4 linked regions of the Homo sapiens genome follow. The main gene of each other region encodes a partner of the protein of the gene in region 2 in a complex. Each region holds a gene or a part of one and is shown on either strand. Other genes may lie near its edges. The genes, in order: DRC3, DRC5, DRC8 and DRC4.

What was found.
Region 1: DRC5 (region 2) and DRC3 share a complex: the UniProt entries of both Homo sapiens proteins name them as parts of the nexin-dynein regulatory complex.
Region 3: DRC5 (region 2) and DRC8 share a complex: the UniProt entries of both Homo sapiens proteins name them as parts of the nexin-dynein regulatory complex.
Region 4: DRC5 (region 2) and DRC4 share a complex: the UniProt entries of both Homo sapiens proteins name them as parts of the nexin-dynein regulatory complex.

Annotation. Positions count from the first base shown.
Region 1 is NC_000017.11:18,010,844-18,017,398, reverse strand, and holds the end of DRC3 (dynein regulatory complex subunit 3), read right to left. Parts: intron 2,341-6,555; exon of another isoform or gene 1,336-2,340; coding exon 1,204-1,335; exon of another isoform or gene 1,199-1,203; coding exon of another isoform or gene 1,139-1,198; intron 842-1,138; coding exon 728-841; 3' UTR 510-727; downstream 1-509. UniProt on the Homo sapiens protein: Component of the nexin-dynein regulatory complex (N-DRC) a key regulator of ciliary/flagellar motility which maintains the alignment and integrity of the distal axoneme and regulates microtubule sliding in motile axonemes.
Region 2 is NC_000006.12:44,287,678-44,294,704, reverse strand, and holds part of DRC5 (dynein regulatory complex subunit 5), read left to right. Parts: intron 1-1,887; exon of another isoform or gene 1,888-2,227; intron 2,228-6,786; 5' UTR 6,787-6,879; coding exon 6,880-7,027. UniProt on the Homo sapiens protein: Component of the nexin-dynein regulatory complex (N-DRC) a key regulator of ciliary/flagellar motility which maintains the alignment and integrity of the distal axoneme and regulates microtubule sliding in motile axonemes.
Region 3 is NC_000001.11:245,014,658-245,021,684, reverse strand, and holds part of DRC8 (dynein regulatory complex protein 8), read right to left. Parts: intron 4,804-7,027; exon of another isoform or gene 4,710-4,803; coding exon of another isoform or gene 4,706-4,709; intron 4,444-4,705; coding exon 4,359-4,443; intron 1-4,358. UniProt on the Homo sapiens protein: Component of the nexin-dynein regulatory complex (N-DRC), a key regulator of ciliary/flagellar motility which maintains the alignment and integrity of the distal axoneme and regulates microtubule sliding in motile axonemes.
Region 4 is NC_000016.10:90,025,678-90,032,704, forward strand, and holds part of DRC4 (dynein regulatory complex subunit 4), read left to right. Parts: intron 1-1,957; exon of another isoform or gene 1,958-1,958; coding exon 1,959-2,045; intron 2,046-3,221; exon of another isoform or gene 3,222-4,224; intron 4,225-5,498; exon of another isoform or gene 5,499-5,621; coding exon 5,622-5,819; intron 5,820-7,027. UniProt on the Homo sapiens protein: Component of the nexin-dynein regulatory complex (N-DRC), a key regulator of ciliary/flagellar motility which maintains the alignment and integrity of the distal axoneme and regulates microtubule sliding in motile axonemes.

The sequences.
Region 1 (6,555 bases), on a different chromosome or scaffold from region 2:
CACACCGGCCTCCTTTTGCCTGTGGCTGGCAGCCTGCCTAGGCATGGCAGGGGAAACGGCAGGGGCACGTGTCTGACTTTATGCCACAGCCAAGAATCTAGCTGATGGCAGTGCCCTTGGGAGTTGCTCTGTCAGCTGGCCTGGGACCGGCTGTTCATCTCAAACTCTTTCTCTTGTTCCTACATGAACATTTTTTTTTTTTTTTTTTTTTTTTTTTTTTTTTTTTTGAGACGAAGTCTCGCTCTGTCGCCCAGGCTGGAGTGCAGTGGTGCGATCTTGGCTCACTGCAACCTCCGCCTCCCAGGTTCAAGTGATTCTCCTGCCTCAGCCTCCTGAGTAGCTGGGATTACAGGTGCACGCTACCACATCTGGCTAATTTTTGTATTTTTAGTAGAGACAAGGTTTCACCATGTTGGTCAGGCTGGTCTCGAACTCCTGACCTCGTGATCTGCATGCCTCGGCCTCCCAAAGTGCTGGGATTACAGACGTGAACCACCGCACCCAGCTGATTTTTTTTTTTTTTTTATGAGTAGGGGAAATGTGAAATGAGTCCTTTATTTTCTCTACTTTTGGAAGTTTTTCCAGGGGTGGGGGAAGAATGGTGTTGGGGATCGCGGTTGAGAGATGCCCAGCAACTCTCTAGAGGTGCGGGTGAGGCGTGTGCACTTCCTTCTCCTGGCTGGGGCTGGTGCTATGTTTTGAAGAAGCTCCTGTGGCTGACATTCATCTAGTCTAGGATGTCGCCACATTCCAGGTTGTCCAGTTCGCTCTGCATGTGGTCGATGTACTGATTGATCTCCTTCACGCGCTTGCGGTTCCTCATGATCTCATCCTTGTGAATCTGAGGAGTGAAACCAAAGCCCGATTCCTTACATCAGATCATTGGTTAATATCTTTCACTGAATCCAGTTTGAGGGAAGGGGAAAATAGTTCCTTTAGATCTGCAAACCTCATTTGCTTCAGCGCCTCCCCAGGTTCTGCTGATCTCTGTATATTTGAGGTAGGAATTAGGAAAATGATGAAGCCCATGGGTTTTAAAGTCTCTGGGCAATGTTGTCTTCAGTGTGGAATTCTATAATCCTTAATTTTATTTCTTCCTTCATTTCATTCCTTAATGAAAATTCTATCCACTACCTAGGGAGGATTTCCATGTCAGCTAGAAAAGTTCATCCAGCCTGCTAGGATGGCTTGGGATTGACTCACCCTGTCTATTAAACGTGTACACCAAGAGTTGATTCTGGTCACCAGCTCATCTTCTCGATTGTCAATCTTCAGGAGGTGGATGTCGTGCGATGCCCCGACAGCATTAACAATCGTATCTTTATCGACAAAAAGCTGGTGAGTGAAAAGAATCCAATGAGAAAGTGTGTGTCATTATACCGTGAACACAAAGGGAGCTGAACAGAGAAGGAGCATTTGGAAGTCCCCTGGCTGTGCAGGCCACACTCAGAGCAGAGCCCACCTTTGTATCAGCGCACTCTGCCGATTCATCTGTGAATTCATCTGTGACAGCCGCTTCCCCAACTGCACAGGGCAGGTGTTGTGGGGAAAGGGCCAACCAGGGTGTTACTTTGCAGTCCCCGCTGGAAGCATGTTTCCTCCAGGGTGAAGGCAGATGGCTGCCCAGGGGGCACCTCACCCAGGACATCTGTTCTCACAATGCTTCTCTCTCAATTACTCTCAAGTCTAACTTGCCCAAAACCTCTGCCTGCTGGGTGGAAGCATGAGGCTGGCTGAGGGTCTCGAGGCTGCTCTGAAGACAGCAGGCCCTACAAACTCATGGGTGTTCACCCCACAGTTGTCTCTCCACTGCCACTCATGTCAACAAAACCAAACTTTGGATTCCATTTGGAGTATCCTTCTGCCTTCTCTTGTTCCTGACTTTGCTGTCTTGTAAAAAGTTGTTAGAAACAACCACCTTCTAATAGGCCTCACTGGTTCTAGGTGTTGACACTGTGGCTATTGTTGCCTGGGATGGTTGAAATGGAGTCATTTCCCAGAGCAGGGCAAGGCCACTGAAGCACTCAGTAAGCAGTTGCTTCCACCTTGAAGCAGAGGCGCTTGGTAAGGCAGAGCACCTGAATGCTCTGTATTGCAGGGAGGATTTGCAAGTGGAGTGTGCATTTTTTGTTCTTTCCTGTAGTGGCAGTTAACTTAATGGTCTCTAAAACGTTCTGTGCAATCTTAAGATGTTAATATTTCTGCCAAAAAAAGTATTCTTTGGTCAAATACATTTGGGAAAGCCAGCACATCCTAGGCCCCTCCTAAAGATTTGCTGGGCACAAAGTATTCTGAAGGCTCTACAAAGTCCTGTGGAAAATAAACCCTTTAAGCTTTGTCTCTCTTGGTTTTCCAACTTTTTTGGCTACAGACTTCAGAGTAATGCCTGTTAATGTCTTGTGGGATGCTGATTTTCCACATAATCTCATGTGGGAAAAGCCAGGTTAGCTGATATGTGGAATGGGGTGTCTGGGGGACCAATTAGCACAGTCACAAGGGAGAAATGTCAAGAAATTATTAAGTTCTTTCCATGTGTGTACAAGGTCCCAGGCCAGGCTCTGGGAATGGTTCAAAGGTGTGTAAAGCCTGTTTTCGGTGAGCCTTGGCAGTGTGCTTAGGAGTGGGTGTCCTGGTTATTTTAGAGATAACTACAACCACAGTGTCAACCCATCACGAAAAGGTTCTCATCCTTCATTCTAAAAGGTGGGTCATAGTGGAGCTCTAAGCCAGGCAGAGAAATCATACCCCTCAGAGTTTGAATATGTAGAAAACAGCTTCAAAAGCTGTGAGAAGCAACAGAAACTGAAATCTGCTTAGAAACATACATGATTAGAATTGGTTATGAAAAACTGTGTGACATTTGTAAAATGAAAACAAAAGGAAACTGGGTTTAAGGGAATTGTTTTGAAATGTGAGTTACAAGTTGTTTCTGGACTTTGGGTGGCCTAGAGTGGTGGCTACTTCAATTTTCCCTCTTAGAATAGTTTTTATGGGTAGAATATTCCAGATCCCTCTCCAGTTTCTGCAGGTTGAAAGCACTAGGGTGGAGGCAGGGGCTGTGCAAACAGGTATTCCTGAGTCTTTTTTGAGCTGTTGCCCTGCTCTGTGGTCCTTGTGGCTGTAAAGACACATTTCTTTCAAAGCAACTTCTTTGTTTAAACACGTTGGCACTGGCCGGGCACGGTGTCACATGCCTGTAATCTCAGCACTTTGGGAGGCCAAGGCGGGAAGGTGGGTGGATCACCTCAGTCAGGAGTTCAAGACCAGCCTGGCCAATATGGTGAATAAAAATACAAAAATTAGCTGGGCATGGTGGCGGGTGCCTGTAATCCCATCTACTTGGAAGGCTAAGGCAGGAGGATAGCTTGAACCTGGGAGGCCGAGGTTGCAGTGAGCCAAGATTGCACCACTGCACTACAGCCTGGGCAACAACAGTGAAACTCCACCTCAAAAAAAAAAAAAAAAATTGGCATTAAAAAAATTGACAAATAACTGTACATATTGATGGGGTACATAGTGATGTTTCAACACCTATCATGTATAGTGATCAGATCAGGGTATTAGCATATCCGTCTCAAACATTTATCATTTCTTTGTGTTGAGAACATTCAATATCCTCCTTTTAGCTATTTGAAACTATATTATTGTCAACTATAGTCATCCCATAGTGGTATAGAACACTAGAACTTATTCCCCCTATCTAGCTGTAATTTGGTATATCCTTTAACAAATCTCTCCCTATTCCTCCATCTCTCTACCCTTCCCAGTCTCTAGAAGCCTCTGTTCTTGTTTTTACTTCTATGAGATCAACTTTTTTAGCTTCGGCATATGAGTGAGAACATGAGGTGTTTAACTTTCTGTTCCTGGCTTATTTCACTTAACATAATGTCCTCCAGTTCCATCCATGTTGCCATGGATTTCATTCTTTTTTTATGGCTGAATAGTATTCCATTGTGTATAGGTACCACATTTTCTTTATCCAGTCATCTGTTGTTGGACACCTAGGTTGATTCTGTATCTTGTTATTGCGAACAGTGCTGCAGTAAACATGGGTGCAGATATGTTTTCAATATAGTGATTTCCTTTCCTTTAGACAAATGCTCAGTAGTGAGATTGCTGGATCATATGATAGTTCTGTTTGTAGTTTTTGAGGGCCCTCCACAATGTTCTTCCTAGTGGCTGTCCTAGTTTACATTCTTACTTACAGTATATGAGTTCCTTTTTCTTTGCATCCTCACCAGCATTTGTTATTTTTTGTCTTTTTGATAATTATCATCCTAAGTGGGGTGAGATGATGCCTCATTCTGGTTCTTATTTGCATTTCCCTGATAACTAGTGATGCTGAAAAGTTTTTAATGTATTTGTTGGCCATTTGTATGTCTTCTTTTGAGAAACATCTGTTCAGATGTTTTTAATTGAATTGTTTGTTTTTTTGCTATTGAGATGTTAGAGTTCATTGTATATTCTGGATATTAATACCCTGTCAGATAAGTAGTTTGCAAATATTTTGTCACATTGTGTAGGGTGTCTTTTCACTCTGTTGTTTCATTTGCTGTGCAGAAGATTTATAGTTTGATATATTCCATTTATTTTTGCTTTTGTTGTCTGTGCTTTTGAGGTCTTATTCATAAAATTTTTTCCCAGGCCAATGTCCTAAAGCATTTCTCTTGTTTTCTTCTGGTCATTTTATAGTTTCAGGTCTTTTTTTTTTTCTTCTGAGACAAAGTCTGGCTCTATTGCTCAGGCTGGAGTGCAGTGGTGCAATTTCAGCTCACTACAACCTCCACCTCCTGGGCTCAAGCCATCCTCCCACCTCAGCATCCTGAGTAGCTGGGACTATAGGCAGGTACCACCATGCCCAGCTAATTTTTGTATTTTTTATAGAGAGGTGGGTCTTTGCCATGTTGCCCAGGCTGGTCTCCAACTCATGAGCTCCAGCGACCTGTCTGTCTCAGGCTCCCAAAGTGCTGGGATTACAGGCATGAGCCACTGCGCCCTGCCAGTTTCAGGTCTTACATGTAGGTCTTAGATCCATTTTTAGTTGATTTTTGTATAGAGTGAGAGATGGGAATCTAGTTTCATTCTTCTGCATATGGATATCCAGTTTTCCCAGCAAAATCTATTGAAGAGACTGTCTTTTCCCCAGTGAGTGTTCTTGGCGCTTTTGTCAAAAATCAGTTGGCTGTAAATATATAGATTAATTTCTGAGTTCTCTATTCTGTTTCATTGGTTTATGTATCTGTGTTTTTGTTTGTTTTAAACAGGCTTAATTCACTTTATTTTTCTTATATAAAAACCCTGTGTTACTTTGGGAAGCCAAGGTGGGCGGATCACTTGAGGTCAGGAGTTTGAGACCAGCCTGGCCGGCCAACATTGGTAAAACCCCATCTCTACTAAAAATACAAAAAATTAACCAGGCATGGTGGTGTGCGCTTGTAGTCCCAGGTACTCGGGAGGCTGAGGTAGGAGGATCATGTGAACCCAGGTGGTGGAGGTTGCAGTGAGCCAGGACTGCACCACTGCACTCCAGCCTGGGCGATAGAGCAAGGCTCCATCTCAAAACAAAACCCTGTGTTGTAGCCACAGCTGAAGCCTGAGTCCTCCACACAGAGACTCTGGTGTGGGTCTTGACAAGATGGTCAGTGAATTACTGAGAGGAAGACTTGGTGAACACAGTCTCCTCCCAGAGGTCAGGGGGCAGGTAGCTATAGGTCTTGGAGATGGCATCAAAGGTGGCCTTGGCAAAGTTGCCCAGGGTGGCACTGCAGCTCCTGGCTGAGGTGTAGCAGTTGTCAATACTGGACATCAGCAGCATCTTCTTGGGCACAGAGGCCAAGAGGATGCCAGTGCCCCTGGGTGCAGGAATAAGGTGCAGCAGCACAGAGCCGCAGCAGCCTGTCATCTTGCAAGGGACAGTGTGGGGCTTGCAATCTTGGTCCCCCAGTGGCCTCTGCACGGGGACAGTAGAGAGCTTGGTCAGGACAGTGATCCCTCTGACAGCAGTGGCTGCTTCCTTGGAGCACTTAACACCCAGAGTGACACGGCCATTGTAATCCCTGATGGCAACAAACGCCTTGAACCTGCTGCGCTGGCTGGGGCAGGTCTGCTTCTGCACTGGCATAATCTTTAAAACCTCATCCTAGGCCTGGCGTGGCGGCTCACGCCTGTAATCCCAGCACTTTGGGAGGCTGAGGCGGGCAGATTACCTGAGGTCAGGAGTTTGAGACCAGCCTGACCAACATGGAGAAACCCCATCTCTACTAAAAATACAAAATTAGCTGGGCATGGTGGCGCATGCCTGTAATCCCAGCTACTCGGGAGGCTGAGGCAGGAGAATCACTTGAACCTGGGAGGTGGAGATTGTCGTGAGCCAAGATCATGCCATTGCACTCCAGCCTGGGCAAAAAAGCAAAATTCCGTCTCAAAAACAAACAAACAAACAAACAAACAAAAAAAAAACCTCATCCTTGAGAGAGGCCCCCAGGAAAAAGTCAATGATCTCAGACTACTTGATGGGCGGGGAGAAGAGATAGATCTCTTCCAGGGACTTGATCT
Region 2 (7,027 bases):
TGCCTCCTGGGTTCAACCTTCATTTTTTTCCCCTAATTATCTTATAAACCACCTCTTTCAGCCTCTCAAGTAGCTGGGATTACAGGCATGTGCCACCATGCCTGGCTAATTTTTGTATTTTTAGTAGAGACGGGGTTTCACCATGTTGATCAGGCTGGTCTTGAACTCTTGACCTCAGGTAATCCACCCTCCTCGACCTCCCAAAGTGCTAAGACTACAGGCATGAGCCACCATATCCCGCCTCCCTTGCCCCTTTTCTAACTTTGCTTTTTGTATCTGAAACTCATTCACACTAAGGTGTGGAATACATATATCCTGATATCTTATATGTAGTCATGTGTATTATATATGTAATTTCTGCACACTTAAACTGTCAGAAACAATATATTACAACTTCTACTTTTTAAAAAGTTTGCTACATTAGGCTGGGTGCAGTGGCTCACGCCTGTAATCTCAGCGCTTTGGGAGGCCAAGGCGGGCAGATCACCTGAGGTCGAGAGTTCAAGACCAGCCTGACCAATATGGAGAAACCCCGTCTCTACTAAAAATACAAAATTAGCCAGCCGTGGTGGTGCATGCCTGTAATCCCAGCTATTCGGGAGGCTGAGACAGGAGAATCACTTGAACCCAGGATGCAGAGGTTGCGGTGAGCTGAGATTGCGCCATGGCACTCCAGCCTGGGCAACAAGAGCGAAACTCTGTCTCAAAAAAAAAAAAAGTTTGCTACATTAGTGTCAGTATACATTTTATGATTTACTATGCTTTTGTTTGACCTAAAATGATGAGATATGTTTTTAAAAAGCAGTTCAAGGTTAACATATGGATATAGGCATACAAGTATTGATATTAAATTTTGTTTCATTTAGGGGGAAAATGCATTTACCCTAACAGGGATGAAGACTGTACATTAGGGCCGTGAAATTCCCCTAGTGGAGTGCCAAAGGCCTGGGAGCGCACTTAGCCCGGGGAGGCCCTCCCCACTTCCCAAGGAGCAAGAATATGCTTTCTTCTTGCCTAGTGGAGGGCAGGAACAGTGAGGGGAGGGGGACATACTGAGTGACTGTGGAGGGGTAGTGTATTGTGGCTAGAGGTAGGAGACCTGCCCTCAGACGCTGGCCCCAGCTCTCATAGGTGTTTTAGGGCCAGTCATTTCCTGTTTCCTTGTTTCTTCATCTGTAAAATGGGGATAAGAAAGCCCATCCTAGCTCCATTATAGGGTGGTTGAAGAGTCACATGAGAAGATTTTTTTTATTTTTTAGAGACGGCATCTCACTATGTTGGCCAGGTTGGTCTTGAATTCTTAGCCTCAAGCAATCCTCCCACCTTGGCCTCCCAAAGTTCTAGGATTACAGGTGTGAGCCACCACACCCAGACTTTTTTTTTTTTTTTTTTTTTTTTGAGAGGATAGTTCTGAAAGGACCTTGAAAGGACCTTGTAACTGTTAAGTGCTGGACAGTTGTAAGGTGCTGATACTGTCCCAGCCCTGGAGAGATGGGATGTGAGACTAGAGGCTCAATGTAGTCAAGAGAGGAAGAGGCCACAGGAGTGAATCAGGTCCTGTGAGTAATAACCTGGGGGCCTTTGGCCATTCTCAGCTATCCCATTGAACTCTTTCATCTACTGATTGAGGATTTTTCCCATATTTTCACTCACCAAACTGTGAGCCTTTTGGTCAAAATGGGGCAGGACCTTTTGGTCAAAAGGAGTAGAAACCCAACTCTTAGCTTTGGCAAAGGGACTTATTAGAAGGCTGCCAAGTTAGCTCTCAGAGCTGAAGGCACTGCCAAAGAGCCAGACAGCTCTGGGAGCCTCCAGAACTAGGCATGGGGATTGAAGATACCAGGATGCTGTCTCTGTCTATCTATCGTTTCTGCTGGTCTCCCCCAGGCTTGATTCCCTCCCACCGCAAACAGACCTTGTACGTGTGGAGAGAAATGACTTCCAGCAGCAGGAGATCCAGATCCTTCAAGGACATATGTCCTTCTGTCTCCCTCCACTTGGACAAATCTCAAGAAGGACTCCGATTGGCTTATATCAGATAGCCACCCCCCAACAAGTTGCCCTGACCAATAGACACTCCTTTTGGCCAGAATCTATTATCAGAAGCCAGTGGAGCCGCCCCAAACACCAGCTACCTCGCCTAAAGCAGACCTACCACTGGGCTAGAAATTGGAGACAAAAATGAGGAGGAGACAGCCCCTACACCTCAAGAAGCTCACAGTCTAGTGTGGGTGTGGGGAACGGGTGGGCAGTCAGGTTACTGGAGTGATGCAGGTACTGGAAAGATGGGGTCTGACAACGGGAGGGGTTGTTTTGGGGTATCAGGGACAAAGAAGCACCTTGCCTTCAGAGAGGAAGTGGTGCTTGAGCTCAGACTCAGAAGACCAGTGATTGTCCCTTTCCCTGGCTGAGGTGGTGGGAAAGGCATTTCAGAGGGAACAACTTGAGCAAGGGCTGGGCAGCATGAACTGGGCTGCAATGTCCCAGATGCAAAGAGGAGCTTATTTCCAACAAGGTGTCCAGCCACGGAGGGCCTTACACACCAAGGTGAGGAGGCTGGATTTTACCCAGTGAGCAGTGGTGAGCTGCTAGAGGGCTTACATGGAGCCTGCCACAGCGGCTGTGTGAAGGCTAGATGTGAGAGAACCAGACTGGATGCCAGAGACCACATGCCTAACAGCTGAAGCTGTGATCCAGACAGACACTGGGGCCCTGAGCTAAGGCAGCAGCAGGAAAGGAGAGGCTGCCTGGGTGGGAGACAAAACTGAATCAGTAACTAGATGGTGGGGTGGGGCGGGAGGGCTGAAAGAGAGAGAGGTGACTCCCTGGTTTCTGGTGCCGGCATCTGGATGGATTGAGTTTGAGGGACCTAGGCAGCATCCCAGTGGACTTGAGTCTGGAATGCAGATGTAGGAGAGTCTGGCATTACACCACCACCCCCTAGCCTCACCATCCTGGTAACAGTACCCTCTGCTTCTCCTGGGATGTCACAGCTGGGAAACCCCACCTGGAAGAGGTGAAAGCTAGAACCCATCAGAAGGAATGAGTGGACGACCATGGCGGAATTCTGAGGGACCTTGGCACGTGAGAGATGGGCAGAGGGAGAGAAGTCTGTGGTGAAGACTTTTGGAAAAAGAATGGTCGGAAAGTAGGAGGAGAGCCAAGAGAGTGGCACGCCAAAGGGTGTCCCCCAAGGGCAGGGGTCAGAAGGCAACCTGCCAAGGGAGGAGCCATACTCCACATCCTCATAACAGTGACAGCGGGGCAGCAAGGAGTTAGTTTTGCTCGTTATCCTTTTAAATATACTTTGTTTTCTATGTTGTTAGTTTAAAAAGTAGATTTTTTTAAACACTTAGAACTAAAATCCTCCTTAGAAGAATCTTGTGTGTCTGGTAATAATTTGCCTGCCAAAATATTTTTGTGATATCCATTTTTAAAAAATCAAGAGATGATTAACTGAAAATTATCAACTCTGATCTTATGCAATTAATTTTTTCAACATTTGCCTTAAAATGACATCAGGCCTTATGGTATGGATGTTCCTATAAAGGCTGAAGGTAGTAGGGGCTCATTTTTATACCAGCCATGCACACGGCAGCCATGTGATATGGAGCGAGGCCCTGCCCCTTCCTTCTGAGAAGTTGGTTCAGGGCCCTGGAACATGCCCCGATGGGTCCTGCTGTGTCATGCCCAGAGGCAGGCTGCAGGCACAAAACAGCAGCAAGACCAATTAGGACCAGATCGTAGGAAGAACTCCAGGTCCTGAAAGTGAGGTGCTAGACGGTGGGACTAGAGTCACCTGATTGCAGAGGCATCCCACCTGGCCCCAGGTGGGGTTTCCCAGGTGTGGCTCCCCAGGAGAAGAAGGAGAAGGGACTGCCTGCCAGTATGGTGAAGCTGGATGGTGCTGTGAGGAATGACTAAAGAGTCAACTCCAGGGCAATGCACACCAGCAACCTGGGGCTCCCCCTGCCAAGCCTGGTCCTGCTCCCTGGGTGTGGCCCATGGGTGTCCAGGGACATATCTGGGACCAAGGGAAATTATAGAATGTTTTAGGCCAAAACCAAGCAGGAGTTGGGCTGGCCTGTTGCCTCTGACCTTCCTCCTTTGCCTCTGTCGTACTGTCTATGAGCCCCCAACACCACCCTGCCTCCTTGCCCTTCACATCACTCCTGGAAATAGGGAAGGGCCTCAGAAACTTTGCACTCACCCAAAGATACCATCTCAGGTCAGCACTCAAGAAGCAGGTCTCCTGGATGTGGTCTCTGCAGCCTCAGACCCCTGCCCCTCATAGTACCTTCACTCTCCACACACCCTGTATGCTTTACAATGATCAATATTAACCGACCATTATCTCAGGGGGATCTCCACTACAGCCCATGTAGGAAGATATTATTATCCAGTTTCTCAGATAAGGAAACTGAAGCTCAGATAGGTTAAGTAACTTGGCCAAGGTCACAAAGCACATAACTGACAAAGCCAGAAATGCAAAGTCAGCCGGTACCACTAAGCAGCAACCCCCTCCAGCCCTACACTCTGAGATGCCATTAGTCAAAAAGCACTATCTGGTTATTCCACAATTCTGGACACAATCTGTGTGTGAATTTGCATTTGATTTGCATAGGGGATGTCACAATACCTAGATATCTTTCCCGCACTATCTCTCTCCCTGCCACCCGCCTCTCAACCAGGCTTTTCCTCCTTGAGATGCCTGGCAGGCTGGGAAGCACCATCTGGTCCCTCCCTCTGCCAAGGACGCCTTTGCTGGTTCAGAGTGTTCCCTCCCACCGGCCACTACCCAGTGCACTGAGTCGTGAGGGTGCACATCTGATGGGAAACTGCCTGGAGGAGGAACTAGGTGCCAGCAGCCCCATTTGGGCTTTCCTCCAGCAGATCTCAGGGCAGGAGTGCAAGGGTGCAGGAATGGGCAAATGGGGGAGGGTCCCCGGACCAAGACACATCCTCTATCTTCTGTCTTCAGCCCCAGATTTAGCTGTCTTCTCGCCTCCCACGCTTGCCCACTGCTGTCTGGAATGCTGGGAGGCTGGGAGAGCTAGAGGAAGACTGGATGGGGAGATGGAAGGGAAGGGACCTGGAGTTTGAGCTCTCAGTGGGAAGGAGGAGAGAAGGGTGCTGGCACCTTGGGCAGGGCATGGGTCTTGTTCCCCTCTCCTTTCTCTCTCAACCTGCACTCTCTGAAACAGTAGCCACATTGAAACGGTAGGCTCAATGTGCCCATTGAGCCATCAAATTTTGAAGACCTCATATGAAAACATAGTATATAAAATGTCGCATTAATAATTTTATATTGATTATATGTTTAAATAACATTTTAGACATACTGGGCTAAATATAAAATTAATTTCATGGTCAGGCACAGTGGTTCACGCCTGTAATCCCAGCACTTTGGAAGGCTGAGGTGGGTGGATCACCTGAGGTCAGGAGTTCAAGACCAGCCTGGCCAACATGGTGAAACCCCGTCTCTACTAAAAATACAAAAATTAGCTGGGGGTGGTGGCAGGCGCCTGTAATCCCTGTAATCGGGAGGCTGAGACAGGAGAATCACTTGAACCCTGGAGGTGGAGGTTGCAGTGACCCAAAATCGCGCCATTGCACTCCAGCCTGGGCAACAAGAGCAAGACAAAAAAAAAAAAAAAAAAAAGCTAATTTCACCTGTTTTTCTTTTTTTTTTTTTTTTTTTTTTTTTTTTTGAGACAGAGTCTTGCTCTATCACCCAGGCTGGAGGGCAGTAGCACAGTCTTGGCTCACTGCAACCTCTGCATCCCAGGTTTAACTGATTGTCATGCCTCAGCCTTCCGAGTAGCTGGGACTACAGGTGCCTGCCACCCTGCCCAGCTAATCTGTGTATTTTTAGTAGAGACAGGATTTCACCATGTTGGCCAGGCTGGTCTCAAACTCCTGACCTCAAGGGACCCACCCACGTTGGCCTCCCAAAGTGCTGGGATTACAGGCATGAGCCACCACGCCCAGCCTTGTTTCTCTTTACTTTTTAAAATGTGGGCACTAAAGAAGTTAAAATAGCATATGTGGCTTGCATTTTGGCTTGCATTATATTTCTGTTGGCCAGAGCTGTTCTCAACCCCATCCTACGGATCAGGCAGTTGCTGTTCTATGAAATACTTAGTGCAGGGTCCTGTTATGAGCTGAATGGCTCTTTATTATATCTGTGTCTTTTGGCAATATACACCCCTCACCCTCAGAGGGCCGGTCCAATGTAGGGTTCAGAGCATGAATTTGACAGACTGAATTTAAACCCACCCGTGATACTTCTAAGCTGCATGACATTGGGCAAGTCAATTAGCCTCTCTGCTTCAGTTTCCCAGCAGAAAAATGGGAATAATACAAGCACCTATCTGAAAAAGCCTTTTCTGAAAAAGGCTTTTCTGAGGACACATGAATTAATAGGCATAAAGAACTAAAAAGATTGTCTGGCACAGAGCAATTACTGTAATTGCTGTAGAGCTATTATCTAAAATTTGGGGCTGCTCCTTGCTAGTTTCATGTGTCAGATACTATATTATGCCCTTTGGATGCATTATTTTATCCACTCCTCCAAATAATCCTACTGGAACTGCGACCTTCATTTCTCAGAGGCAACATCTGAAATTCAGAGAGGTTCAGTAACTTGCCCAAGGCCACACAGATAACTTGGATCTGCTTCACTCCAGGGACTGATCGTTAAGCACTATTCTGTACCACCTCTCTTAGTAAATGCCCACCAAGACCCACCAAAGTAACACCTCTACCCTCTTCCTTTTGCTCCAGATCCCTACCTGTTTCAAGGACCTGCCAGTCTGAGAAGCTTCTTGTCATAAGGCCATCCAGGGGCCACGCACCCCTACCTTGCCAGCCTCCAGCATGCAGGATACCGTAACGACATCAGCATTGTTGGACCCCAGCCACTCCTCAGTCTCCACCCAGGACAATTCCTCCACTGGAGGACACACTTCAAGCACAAGCCCACAGCTCTCAAAGCCTTCAATCACACCAGTCCCTGCAAAGTCCA
Region 3 (7,027 bases), on a different chromosome or scaffold from region 2:
GCAGGCGGATGACTTGAGGCCAGGAGTTTGAGAACAGCCTGGGCAACATAGCAAGACCCTGTCTCTACTAAAAATACAAAAATTAGATGGGCGTGGTGGTGGGCACCTGTAATCCCAGCTACTTGGGAGGCCAATGCAGGAGAATTGCTTGAACTCAGGAGGCAGAGGTTACAATGAGCCGAGATTGGGCCACTACAATCCAGCTTGAGCCACACAGTGAGATGCCATCTCAAAATAATAATAATAAAAACTATATATATATAAAGTAGAATAATTATAATAGCTAATACTGTTCTTAGCTTTAAATCCCAAGCTAATATTGTTCTAAGAGCTTTAAAAATGTCCACTCACAATAGTGGTTCTCAAACTTTTTGGTCTGATAACTCCTTTTACAAACTATCAAAAATTATCAAGGCGCTCAAAGCGTCTATGTTTGTGTGAGTTATATGCATCTATATTTACTATCATATTAGAAATTAAAGCTTACATTTTAAAAATATGTATTTATTAATTCATTTAAAAATCATAAATCAACCCAAATGTTTACATAAATAGTTGTTAATTTTTTAAACTATATTTTCCAAAACAAAAAGTATATTTAGAAGAATGGCATTGTTTTACATTGTTTTACATACGTTCAATGTAAATATGTAACACCTGGCTTCACAGAGGACAGCTGCATTCTCATATCTAGTTCTGCGTTCAATCTGTTGTAAAACTGCACGTCATGTAGCCTTTGAAAAACTCCAGTATAAGGCTGGGTGTGGTGGCTCACGCCTGTAATCCCAGCACTTTGGGAGGCCAAGGTGGGTGGATCACCTGAGGCCAGGAGTTCATGACCAGCCTGGACAACATGGTGAAACCCCGTCTCTACTAAAAAAAAAAAAAAATACGAAAATTAGCCGGGCGTGGTGGCGGGCACCTGTAATCCCAGCTACTTGGGAGGCTGATGCAGGAGAATTGCTTGAACCCGGAAGGCGGAGGTTGCAGTGAGCTGAGATTGCACCATTGCACTCCAGCCTGGGTGACAGAGCGAGACCCTGTCTAAAAAAAAAAAAAAAAAAAAAAAAAGAAAGAAAAACTCCAGTATATACTTGTGGAAACAGTGAGAATGAAAAGAACAAATACTGTCTTAAATTTATTATGAAAATAGTTATGACTTCACAGACCCCGGAAAGGGTCTTGGGGGCACTCTGAGAACTAATTACTTATACTATGAAACCTAGGAGGCAAAGGTACATGGAGGCACAAAGAGAATAACAAAGTGACTCGCAGTCACGGAGCTGGGATGGGAACCCAGGAAGTCTGATTCCAGACCTCAGGACTGCCCCTCAGAGGTGGAAGGGCAGTAGCAGGAGCCCAGCTCATAATGCTTTTGACAGTGGGCTGGTGGCTGCCCAGCATTTGGAATACCAGACTTTCCCTTTATCTAATGCAATACAATTTCAAATCAAATATTTCAATTTGTGCAAAGCAGAGATAAGGGAAAGGGAAAGTAGCCACCACAAAATTCTAAGACCTAGACCTCTCAGGGGACCTAGATCAGCCCTACACAGGAAGTAACACCAAACCTCCACCTGAGGGATAAAGCAGTTAGGGGAGGAACAGCCAGTGCCTGGGGGCGGGGGGCGTCTCCAGGAACAGCTCTCTCTGTCCTGCCCCCACTGAGCCATTACATATCTCTCCCTCCGTTCAAAGACACTTCTTTCTTTTTTATTTTTAGACAAAGCCTCACTTAGTCGCCCAGGCTGGAGTGCAGTGGTGCAATCTCAGCTCACTGCAATCTCCACCTCCTGGGTTCAAGAGATTCTAATGCCTCAGCCTCCCAAGCAGCTGGGACTACAGGTGCACACCACCATGCCCAGCTAATTATTTTTATTTTTTAGTTTTTAGTTTTTATTTTTAGGAGAGATGAGGTTTCACCATGTTGGCCAGGCTGGTCTTGAATTCCTGACCTCAGGTGAGCCACCCACCTTGGCCTCCCAAAGCTTAATTTCCAATTTATAAAGAGTGGCCGAGTGCAGTGGCTCACACCTGTAATACCAACACTTTGGGAGGCTAAGGAGGGTCTATCACTTGAGGCCAGGAGTTCAAGACCAGCCTGGGCAACATAGCAACACCCCTGTCACTACAAGAAATAATAATTAGCTGGGCGTGGTAGTCCTAGCTGCTTGGGAGGCTGAGGCAGGAGGATCACTTCAGGAGTTCAAGGTTACATACAGTGAGTTATGATCAAGCCACTATAATCTAGCCTGGAGGACAGAGTAAGACCCTATCTTTAAACGAATTTTTTAAAAAGAGTGGATGGTAATGATACCAGCAGCATGAGAACATTCATTATAAACTTTAAAGTGATATACAAATTAACACAGGAAAAATTATAAAGCTACATTCATCCATGTTGTTATTCCTCAAATATACTCAGCAGCAATATTTTAATGCTAAAAACAATAACAATTTTCTTAGTAACCATCTTTAATTAACAAAGCAGACTCTTTAGGTTGTAAGAACATCCACTTTCCCTCAGGGCCTCGGTAAAGTTATTTTAACTTTCAATGGAAAAAAAGATTCAGCCCATAAACACGTTTTCTTTTACTGAATTGGCCCTTTTACCAAAAAAGGCCTGGCATCATTGCTGTCAGTGATCGGGAGATTTTCTTTTCACTGCTACTGTCAGGAAGCCTGAAGGCAGAAGAGAAGCCCCTGATGTCTCTAAAGAGTAGGAGTGGGAGTGTGGGCAGTGTGGCATGCCCACAGTGTAGCAAGAGACTTGGCGTTAGAGAAACCTGGTGTGACATGGAGCAAACGATTTACCTTCTCCTTGTCTCTGGAAACCGGAGATGCCAACCCTTAACCCATAAATAAAAAGATTAAAATGAGGTAATCCACGTGAAGCCTCTGGCACCCAACTACACGTAGTGTGTTAGATGACAAGCCTCAAGCAGATGCTGGTTTCTTTTCTCTCTTTTCCCTCTCTCTCATAATGCCATACTTTCCCTGACTTCTCTAACAATACCTCTGTCCCCCGCCCCCAGGAGGAGAACCCTTCAAGGAGAGGTCTGAGGTCAAGGCACTTGTCATTCATGTAGTTAGTTATTCAAATTGCAGGCCGGGCTGCCTGCTGCACCCCCTCCCTAACCCTACCACCACCACCAGCACCCTGCCCACTCATTTCCTACTGGGATACCCACAGGAAGGCCTGGTGTTCCACAATGTCATTCCCACAGAATGCAATGTGACCACAGCCACCGGAGCTGTATGGTGCTGCAGCTCTGATGGCACTGGTTTATAAGCATCAAACAGTTCCTTTCCAGAACCATTTTCAAACCACTTCCCACTGCTTTGCTGGCCTCTCTACTAGGTTCTGGTCTTGAGATTGCAATCTCATCAAATAACCCTCATTTAGCCCGGCCTCCTGAAAGGATGGTTTCATTGCCTTTTTTTTTTTTTTTTTTTTTGAGACAGAGTCTCGCTCTGTCGCCCAGGCTGGAGTGCAGTGGCATGATCTCAGCTCACTGCAACCTCTGCCTCCCGGGTACAAGTGATTCTTCTGCCTCAGCCTCCAAAGTAGCTGGGATTACAGGTGCCTGCCATCGTGCCCGGCTAGTTTTTGTATTTTTAGTAGAGACAGAGTTTCACCATGTTGGTCAGGCTGGTCCTGAACTCCTGACCTTAGGTGATCTGTCCACCTTGACCTCCCAAAGTACTTGGATTACAGGTGTCAGCCACCACGCCTGGCTTCATTGCTTTTCTTTGATGTGTGTGGCACAAACCCTACAATTCTTATTAGCGTCTAATCTCTTCTCTTAAGGGGTTTTTTGTTTGTTTTGTTTCAGTCCCAAGCTGTGTCCTCCATTTCAGACCTACCAGTATTCATGTCTTCTCTTGCCTTTTTATGTTCTTCTGTTTGGGTTCTTTTTGCTATTTTACAGGGGGAGTGTGTCATCGCATAAGCATTACTGTTTCCTTGCAATATCCTATTTGTGGCCTTATAATACATATTTATGTGTTTTACAAAGCAAATGCTGTTCCTTCACTCAACGACTATTTCCTGAGTACCAACTATGTGCCAAGCACTAAAGCTAAAATAGAGTTCATCTCAGTCACAGAGTTTACAATTATAGGTTGGAACAGGCAATGAGAATACAGTATATTGTTTCTACCAGAGTATGAAGAATAAGAAACAGTACTTATCAAAGCAATAGCTAGCAAAGACCTTTTACGGAGCATGGAAAATAAATACTTAAAAGAGCATAATAAATCCAAGGTACAGTGTAAAAAGAGAAAATAGCTCTCTTGTATCTTATGACTTGTATCAGTAATTTAAAAGTGTAACAAAAAAAAAAATATTTCCACACCTCACATCCACTGTATTATTCGACTCATGGTCAAAGACTTCAAATGCCTCTTTGATTTTTTTGTGAAATTCTGCTACTATTATCTCTGCAAAAGACAAAGTAAATAAAAATTAGTTTACTTTAGCTTTGAATTCAAAACAAAAATTCTAATAACCAGACTAGCAATCTTAATAAGTAAGCATATGAAGAACCCTCTCCTTATATTTATGTATCATTTAGCATGTTTAACTTCCTCTGGAGATGTCAAAGGATACACTGTATTTGTAAACATTTTTTCTGAGGCAAAATATACATATGGTAAAGGTGCACTGATCTTAAATACACAGCTTAATTAAGTGTTTACATACGCATATACTCATGGAACCACTCAACCACTCCAATCACGGTGACAGAATATTTCCAGCAGCGGCCTCTCTATCTCAAGTCCTTTGGGTAGAGTCGTAGCCTGAGAGGCACAGTGAAACCAATAAAAACAGATACTGTTTGCTTATCAACAGTGTTCCCTGCCTACCTTGCCTTATTCTTTGCTTGTGGAGTTGGGGGAAGAAAGGCATAAAAACCAACATGACATTTACTCAAAAAGCTTTCAAACTAGTTTTGGACTATGACTTACATATATGAAACACTCATATATATATTCAGTAAACAGTTACCTAGTACTTACAATGTGCTAAGGTTATGGCAAGGAACAAAATAGAAAAAAATTCCTGCCTCCATAGAGCTACTTTTATTGGGAAAGAAATATAAGCTCGTAATATTCGATAAAATACATAGTAAGGCAAATGGTGTGAGAAATAGAGGAAGGAATAAACAGGGTAGGGACACGAGGAGTGCTGGGCGTGGGTGGGGGAGAATGGGTTGATACGGTGGTCTTAGAGAGGCCTGCCTCTGTGGTAAGGCGACCCTTGGGCAGACACCTGAAGGAGGGGAAGGAACCAGCCTTATGAACAACTGCAGAGTTTTCAGGCAGAGAGAACAGTAAGTGCAGAAGAGTAAGAAATAAGATCAGAAAGGTATGAGTTTGAGGGTGATTGTAAAGAGGCCTTGGCTAGGTGCGGTGGCTCACACCTGTATTCCCAGCACTTCGGGAGGCCGAGGAGGGTGGTTCACCTGAGGTCAGGAGTTTGAGACCAGCCTGGCCAACAGGGTGAAACCCTGTCTCTACTAAAAATACAAAATTAGCCAGGCATGGTGGCGCATAACTGTAATCCCAGCAAGTTGGGAGGCTGAGGCAGGAGAATTGCTTGAACCTGGGAGGCGGAGGTTGCAGTGAGCCGAGATTGCGCCATTGCACCATTGCACTCCAGCCTGGGCAACAAGAACAAAACTCCATCTCAAAAAAAAAAAAAAAAAAAAAAAAAGCCCTGTAGGCTACTTTAAGGATTTCGGCTTTTACTCTGAATGAGATGAGAAGCCGCTGAAGGGTTTTTCCAGGCAGCACAGTGATGCGGTCTGCTGATCACTTTGGCTATTATGAAAAGGGTGGAAGCAGAGAGACCAGTCAGGAGGCCTCTGCAATACTCCAGGTGAGAGATGTGGGCCAGAATGGTAGCAGTGAAGGTGGTGAGAAATGTCAGCATTCTGGATATATTCTTTCTTTCTTTTTTTTTTTTTTTTGAGACAGAGTCTCTCTCTGTTGCCCAGGTTGGAGTGCAGTGGCTTGATCTCGGCTCACTGCAACCTCCACCTCCCGGGTTCAAGCGATTCTCTTGCCTCTGCCTCCTGAGTAGCTGGGACTACAGGCGCACACCACCATGCCCAGCTAATTTTTTGTATTTTTAGTAGAGACAAGGTTTCACCATGTTGGCCAGGATGGTCTCGATCTCCTAACCTCATTATCCACCCGCCTCAGCCTCCCAAAGTGCTGGGATTACAGGCGTGAGCCACCGCGCCCGGCAGATTCTGGATATATTCTAAAGAGCAGAGCCAACAAGATTTGCTGATAAATTTTATGTTAGGTGCAGAGAGAAAGAAAAGGGTTAAGGCCAACTCCAAGGTGTTTGGCTGAGTGAAAGAATAAAGGACAATAATGTAATTAAGTCTCTAAATTGTGCTAAGCATGGGAGCTCATGCCTATAGCAGTTTGGTAGGCCCAGGCAGGAGGATTGCTTGAGGTCAGCAGGTCGAGGCTGCAGTGAGCCATGATCACACTACTGCACGCCAGCCTGGCGACAGAACCAGACCTTGTCTCAAAGAAAAGAAAAAGGTGTCAAAATGTATCAAACAGTAAATACAGTAGGACACCCAGAAAGAAAGAGATTAGGCATGAGTTTAGGTAATTATTTCAATTAGAAATATAATACCACCCAATAGTAGAAAATAGGAAATTTTAAAATCAGTCAAATTCTCTTCCCCCTAACATAACTACTCATCATTTTGCTGTATTTTCTTCCAATCTTTCTTCATACATATTCTTTTATATATGGCATTGAATAACTACCATTCACTCACTCAACAAATATGTACTGAATAAACACTATACACCAGGTTCTACGTCAGGTACTGTATATACTTTTACAACCGTAGAGAAAAAAAGAAACCAAAGCTCAGAGAGGCTAAGCACCTTGCCCAAGATCACAGAGTTATTGAGTGGCAGAGCTGGACTGAACTCAGATCTTCCTCATTTGAACAATCCTGCTCTTCTCCCCCCACACCCCACCCCACCTCAC
Region 4 (7,027 bases), on a different chromosome or scaffold from region 2:
GTTCAAGACCAGCCTGGCCAACATGGTGAAACCTCGTCTCTACTAAAATACAAAAAAAAATTAGCCAGGCGTGGTGGCGGGCACCTGTAGTCCCAGCTCCTCGTGGAGGCTGAGGCAGGAGAATTGTTTGAACCCAAGAGGTGGAGGTTGCAGTGAGCCAAGGCAGCCTGGATGACGAGGGAGACTCCATCTCAAAAAAAAAAAAAAAAAGATAAATGGATTTAGGTTTTAATGTTTTTAAAAAATAAATAAAATTTCCACATGAAATTTGTAATTTTAAAAACGTTACATAGCTGGGCACAGCAGCAGTGAACTCCTGTGGTCCCAGCTCCTTGGGAGGCTGAGGTGGGAGTATCAGTTGAGCCCAGGAATTGGAGTCTGCAGTGAGCTATGTGATCACACCACTGCACTCCAGCTTGGGCGACAGAGCAAGACTTTGTCTTTAAAAAAGGTTACCGAGACATGTAGACACAGAAAAGCATGGGCTGAAGACTACTGGGAGTAGCAAAGTCAGCAGGATAGGATATGGAAATTTGTTACCTGCTTGAGTGCCCTGTAAATGGGTGGCCAGACAGAACTGCTCCTGGTGTCATGCGTGGTTTCAGCAACTTCCACAAGGGGGTGGGGTTAGAAGGTTCTCTCCCATCCTTGTCAAAGTTGCTAAAACCACGCACGACGCCATGTGCAGTTCCGTCTGGCAGCCCATTTACAGGGCTCTCGTGGTGGGTGCTGTCTGCCCAAGCTTTCTTGACCAGGCTTCTCTGAAGGAAGTTTCTCTTTGAAAGAAAGGAAACTTGTGGTTGTCACAACCGATCGTGGTTATGGAGGCATTTCTCCCTAAGCTTACTGAATGGTGTCTTGCAGGTCTTTTCCATGGTGGTCACCAATGTTGCCGCCAGCATGGTAACATTTGGCAGTGTGGTATTGAGGGTCTTTCCTCTGTTTTGCATCCACAGCAGAGGTCTTTACTTTTTACCAAGGAGTGAGTGGGTTTGGAATGGGTTCCCCCCTCTCTTAGTTTTTGGAGACGGGGTCTCGTTCTACTGCCCAGGCTGGAGTGCGGTGGTGCACCATAGCTCACTGCAGCCTTAAACTTCTAGGCTCAAGTGATTGTCCTGCCTTGGCCTCCCAAAGTGCTGGGATGACACGTGTGAGCCACTGCGCCTGGTCACCGTATACCAAGGAATGAGTGGGTTTGGAATGAGTTCCCTCTCTTTTCTTTTTTTTTTTTTTTAAGTTACAGTTTGCTTTTTGAGATGGAGTCTCACTTTGTTGCCCAGGCTGGAGTGCAATGGTGGGATCTTGGCTCACTGCAGCCTCTGCCTCCCGGGTTCAAGCGATTCTTCTGCCTCAGCCTCCCGAGTAACTGGGACTATAGGCACACACCAGCACACCTGGCTAGGTTTCCTCTCTTTTTTTTTTTTTTGAGATGGAGTCTCACTCTGTCGTCCTGGCTGGAGTGCAGTGGTGTGATCTCGGCTCACTGCAAACTCCATGCCCCAGGTTCAAGCCATTCTCCTGCCTCAGCCTCCCGAGTAGCTGGGACTACAGGCGCCCACCGGCACGCCCGGCTAATTTTTTTTTGTATTTTTAGTAGAGATGGGGTTTCACTGTGTTAGCCGGGATGGTCTTGATCTCCTGACCTCGTGATCCGTCCACCTCGGCCTCCCAAAGTGCTGGGATTACAGGCGTGAGCCACCACGCCCGGCTCCTCTCTTTTCTAGAAGGAATGTTCTCCTTCTCAAAAGGAAGGTTTCTCCTTTGTGCTTCTCCAAATGCAACAACAGGATGTGTGTGTGGTAAAGGGTGGGAACACTCAGGGCAATGATGTGCTCCAGGTGAGCAGAAGGGAGAGAGGTTCCAGAACCTTCTCTGCCAAATGTTCCTGGGAGCAAATCAGAGCCAGCCAAGAAGGGGAAGCTGTTAGAGTCTCTCTTACCCCATTATTTCCACCAAAGGCACCGAAAAAGAAAGGGAAGAAAGGCAAAGCCAAAGGCACCCCGATTGTCGATGGGCTCGCTCCAGAGGACATGAGCAAGGAGCAGGTGAGCAGAGCGGGCTGTGGCCCAGTCCCCGGGTGGGCGTGGGCGGGCACCACGCAGGGTGCCTACGCCGAGTGTCCATCTTGCCATGTGGATCCACCCTTCTGTCCAAGCCAGAACACGCCCCCCGCGTGGCCCATAATTCCCATCAGCGGCAAAGCTTTCGGCTGCACCATGTCTTTTCAGAAAGGTAGTGCAGCCTGTGAAAGAGCTTTGTAACAGGGTGGTAGGAGTGTGGAAGGACATGCTTTTCTGATCTAAAAGCTGTTTTTAATTTCGTGTATTCTCTTTCAATCTTACCCTTTTTTTGCACCTGATGTGTATAGACTTATCGTAGAACACACATGTAGCATTCTCCTTTATTTTATTCACCATTAAACATTATGTCAAAAAGGAAGTTTTTGAAAGAAGGATGATTTACTTCAAATCACATCTGAATCTGATTAATCGTTCATTTTTTTTTTTTTTTTTTTTTTTTTTTTTGAGACGGAGTCTCACTCTGTCGCCCAGGCTGGAGTGCAGTGGCGCGATCTCGGCTCACTGTGAGCTCCACCTCCCGGGTTCACACCATTCTCCTGCCTCAGCCTCCCGAGTAGCTGGGACTACAGGCACCTGCCACCACGCCTGGCTAATTTTTTTTTTGTATTTTTAGTAGAGACGGGGTTTCACCGTGTTAGCCAGGATGGTCTCGATCTCCTGACCTCGTGATCCACTCGCCTCGGCCTCCCAAAGTGCTGGGATTACAGGCATGAGCCACCACGCCTGGCCAGTCATTCATTGTTTTTGATAAAAGTCCCAACAAGGAGTAACAGCATCAGGGCTGCCTTTTTCTTGTTGCTTATTTTGGGGAGGAGGTGATGTTTTTATAGTTTCTTTGTAGGAGTTAGTTTAAGTCTCTTCTTCATTTGGATGTAGTTAAGGGCTACAGAACATAATTACATAATTACAATTTTACCTAAAAGGCTCCTGGAGACGGCAGTGTGTGGCAAGCACGGTGCACCCTCTGGCCTCTGCCCTCATGGACGACTGCCTGTGAGCACCTGACATGGGACATGAGGGCTGTGTCAACTCTGTGTTATTGTTAATAAATCTTACCTTCTTTTGATAGTTGTAAGATAAAAAATCAATACGAAGGAGACTGAAAGAGTCTCATGACCTGAAGTTGGAGCTAGGCAGAGGTCCTTGAACAATGGTAAAGAATGGCTTTATTTTACATGCAGGCAAACCATTGGCAGTTTAAGCCAGTGGCTAAGCAGAGAGGTGATGGGGTCAGGTTTGTGTTCTGGAAAGATGTCTGGAGCTGCTGGATGGAGAATGGATTGAACACTGCGTTGTCCCAGCATGTGAGCTGCTGCCCGTCTCCCTGTCCGCTTCCCATTCCTGTGGAGACAGGCCTTGTGGGGCAGTGGCCATGGAGCCTACGGGGCAGCCTACGGGGCAGGCTACGGGGCAGCTTACGGGGCAGGCTATGGGGCAGCCTACGGGGCAGGCTACGGGGCAGGCCCTTGCACTGCACATCGCACGTTGAGCCACAGACTCAGAAGGCTTCTTCAGGGTCCAGGCAGGTGGGGAGGGATGGGGGTGACCTGGAGACTCCTGCCCCGCAGCAGAGGACAGTTTCATCTGTTCACTGGGGAGTGCCTTGTGGGCCTAGGAGTTCAGTGCTGTTTTTTTCTGATTTTCCAAGAGAAGCTGGAAATCTGGATATTTATAAGAAATCTGAATATTGAGTGATGGCAAAATCTCAACACCATGTGAGCCAAACAGACCAGTCAGGAGCCCTGGTTCAGGCTCTGCCCAGGAGCCTCTAAAGGTCTGTGACGTGAAGACATTTGTCGTTGTGCCGAGGCACTGGTTGGATTCGGGGGTGCGTGTCTCCCTCATGTCTGCCCGGCATCCTCGGCTCAGAACCCCTCCTGCTGCTCCTTCTTGTTTGCTCGTTGTCTTGTCTTCTTTTGAGGTGAGAAATGTGTTTTCCCTGTGGGGAATGTGGTGTTGAGAAAGAAAAAGGCTCACAGTAAGTGGCCTGGGGCTGTGCCCGAAAAGTAACTGATTCTGACGGAATCTCGCTGTGTGGCCCAGGCTGGAGTGCGGTGGCGCGACCTCGGCTCACTGCAAGCTCCACCTCCTGGGTTCACACCATCCTGCTGCTTCAGGCTGCCCAGTAGCTGGGACTGCAGGTGCCTGCCATCACGCCCGGCTAATTTTTTTGTATTTTTAGTAGAGACGAGGTTTCACCGTGTTAGCCAGGATGGCCTTGATCTCCTGACCTCATGATCTGCCTGTCTCTGCCTCCCAAAGTGCTGGGATTACAGGTGTGAGCCACCGCGCCTGGCAGTAACTGATTCTTAAGGGAAATGAGCTCCCGAGAAAGCTGGAAGCCTGTCCTACATTTTTTTTTAACCTATTTGCAGATTCGCAATTGAACCCTCTTGAGATTTTAGAGTCTACTGGTTTTGTATATTTTTTGCTTAACATTATATCTTCAAAGGTGAATTTTTTTTCATTTAGCATTATGATATGAATTTGTTTAAATGCTGCTACATCATTTGCATATTTTTTTTGGGTTAATGTGATATTTCTCCTAGTTGATATACTCTAATTTTTCAACCATTTCCATATTTATTTATTTATTGTTTAGAGACAGGGTCCTGCTCTGTCACCCAGGTGGAGTGCAGTGGTGTGATCACGGCTCACGGCAGCCTTGACCTCCCAGGTCCAAACGATCCTCCTACCTCAGTCTTCTGAGTAGCTGGGACTATAGGCATGTGCCACCACTCCTGGCTAATTTTTTTTTTTTTTTTTTTTTGTAGAGACAGGGTTTTGCCATGTTGCCTAGGCTGTTCAACTCTGGGGCTCAAAAGATCCTCCCAAAGTGGTGGGAGCCACCATGCCTGGCTGTTTGTGTATTTTTTGAGACAGATTCTCACTCTGTCACCCAGGCTGGAGTGTAGTGGCATGATCATAACTAACCGCAGCCTCAACCCCCTGAGCTTGAGTGACCCTCCCACCTCAGCTCTCCCAGTAGCTGAGACTATAGGTGCGTGCCATCATGCCTAGTTAATGAAAAAAAGTTTTTGCAGAGATGGGGTCTTGCTATGTTGCCCAAGCTGGTCTTCAGCTCCTGGGCGCGAGGGATCCTTCAACCTCAGCCTCCCAGAGTGCTGGGGTTGCAGGCGAGAGCCACCGCGCCTCGCTTATTTCCCTGTTTAAACTGGTCTTAGGTTATTTCCTTTTTGATATTTTTGCTGTTGTAATAATGGTGTGGGTAATATCTTTGAGCAAGATGCTCTTATATTTCTTTTGAGAAATTTTTTAGGCATCAATTCTCAGGAATGGATGAAAGGATCTAGTTATTTTATGATTATTGGCCAAATTGAAGAGAATTCTGCCACCTGCTGAATGCATTCTGTCTCCGGAGCTTCCTAGCCTTATATTTTAACTTTTTACATTTAGCTGTTTATTTTTAGGTGAAGTTGAGTCCTCCCTCTTTCTTCCTTGCCTTTCGCCGGCCACACGCCCCGTTGCCGTGCATGGGCCCCTGCTCAGTGCCTCACCTGACCCACTGCACCTGGCCAGGTGGAGGAGCATGTCAGCCGCATCCGGGAGGAGCTGGACCGCGAGCGGGAGGAACGAAACTACTTCCAGCTGGAGCGGGACAAGATCCACACCTTCTGGGAGATCACACGGAGGCAGCTGGAGGAGAAGAAGGCTGAGCTGCGGAACAAAGACCGGGAGATGGAAGAAGCCGAGGAGAGGCACCAGGTGGAGATCAAGGTGAGTGGGGCCGGCCTGCACGTGCTAACCTGGTCACCACAGAGCCCCAGAGGAGCTGGATCCAGTGAGGGTGCAGGTGGGACATTTTCTGTTCTTGGCTTTGGGAGTCACAGCCTTAAAGGTGTTTTTTATAAAAGCCTGAGGGAGAGACCCTGCAGGTCCTGAGGGTTTAAAATGCTGCCTCCACAACATGGAAGGAATATGGGCTCTGGGGGCAGACTGGCCTGTTTGCAACTCAGCTCTGCCACTTAATACCCCATGAGCTGGGGATGCACCTCACCTCCCAGCCTTGGTGTCCTGCTCTGTGCCTCAAGTGTACAGGTTTGCATAGGTGAACAGGCATGTGTAGCTGTGTAAAGGTGAGGCATGCAAGTGAGCAGGTGGATGCAAGTGAGCATGTGTGTGCAGGTGAGGAGGCGTGGCCAGGTGAGGAGGTATGTGCAGGTGAGGTGTGGGGAGGTGAGCACGTGGGGCAGGTATGTGCAGGTGAGCAGGTAGGTGCAAGTGACCAGGTGTCTACAGGTATGTACAGGTGAGGAGGTGTAGTACAGGTGTAGTGCAGGCGACCAGGTGTGTACGGGAATTTACAGGTGAGGAGGTGTACAGGTGACCAGGTGTGTACAGGTATGGACAGGTGAGAAGGTGTGGTACAGGTGTGGTGCAGGTGAGCAGGGGGGTACAGGTATGTACAGGTGAGGTGTGTTACAGGTACGGTGCAGGTGATCAGGTGTATACAGGAATGTACAAGTGAGGAGGTGTGGTACAGGTGACCAGGTGTGTACAGGTATGGACAGGTGAGGAGGTGTGGTACAGGTGTGGTGTGGGTGAGCAGGAGTGTACAGGTATGTACAGGTGAGGAGGTGTGGTACAGGTGACCAGGTGTGTACGGGTACGGACAGGTGAGGAGGTGTGGTACAGGTGTGGTATGGGTGACCAGGTGTGTACAGGTATGGACAGGTGAGGAGGTGTGGTACAGGTGACCAGGTGTGTACGGGTACGGACAGGTGAGGAGGTGTGGTGCAGGTGTGGTATGGGTGACCAGGTGTGTACAGGTATGGATGGACAGGTAAGGAGGTGTGGTACAGGTGACCAGGTGTGTACAGGTATGGACAGGTGAGGAGGTGTGGTACAGGTGTGCTATGGGTGACCAGGTGTGCACAGGTACGGAAAGGTGAGGAGGTGTGGTGCAGGTGAGCAGATGGTACTCC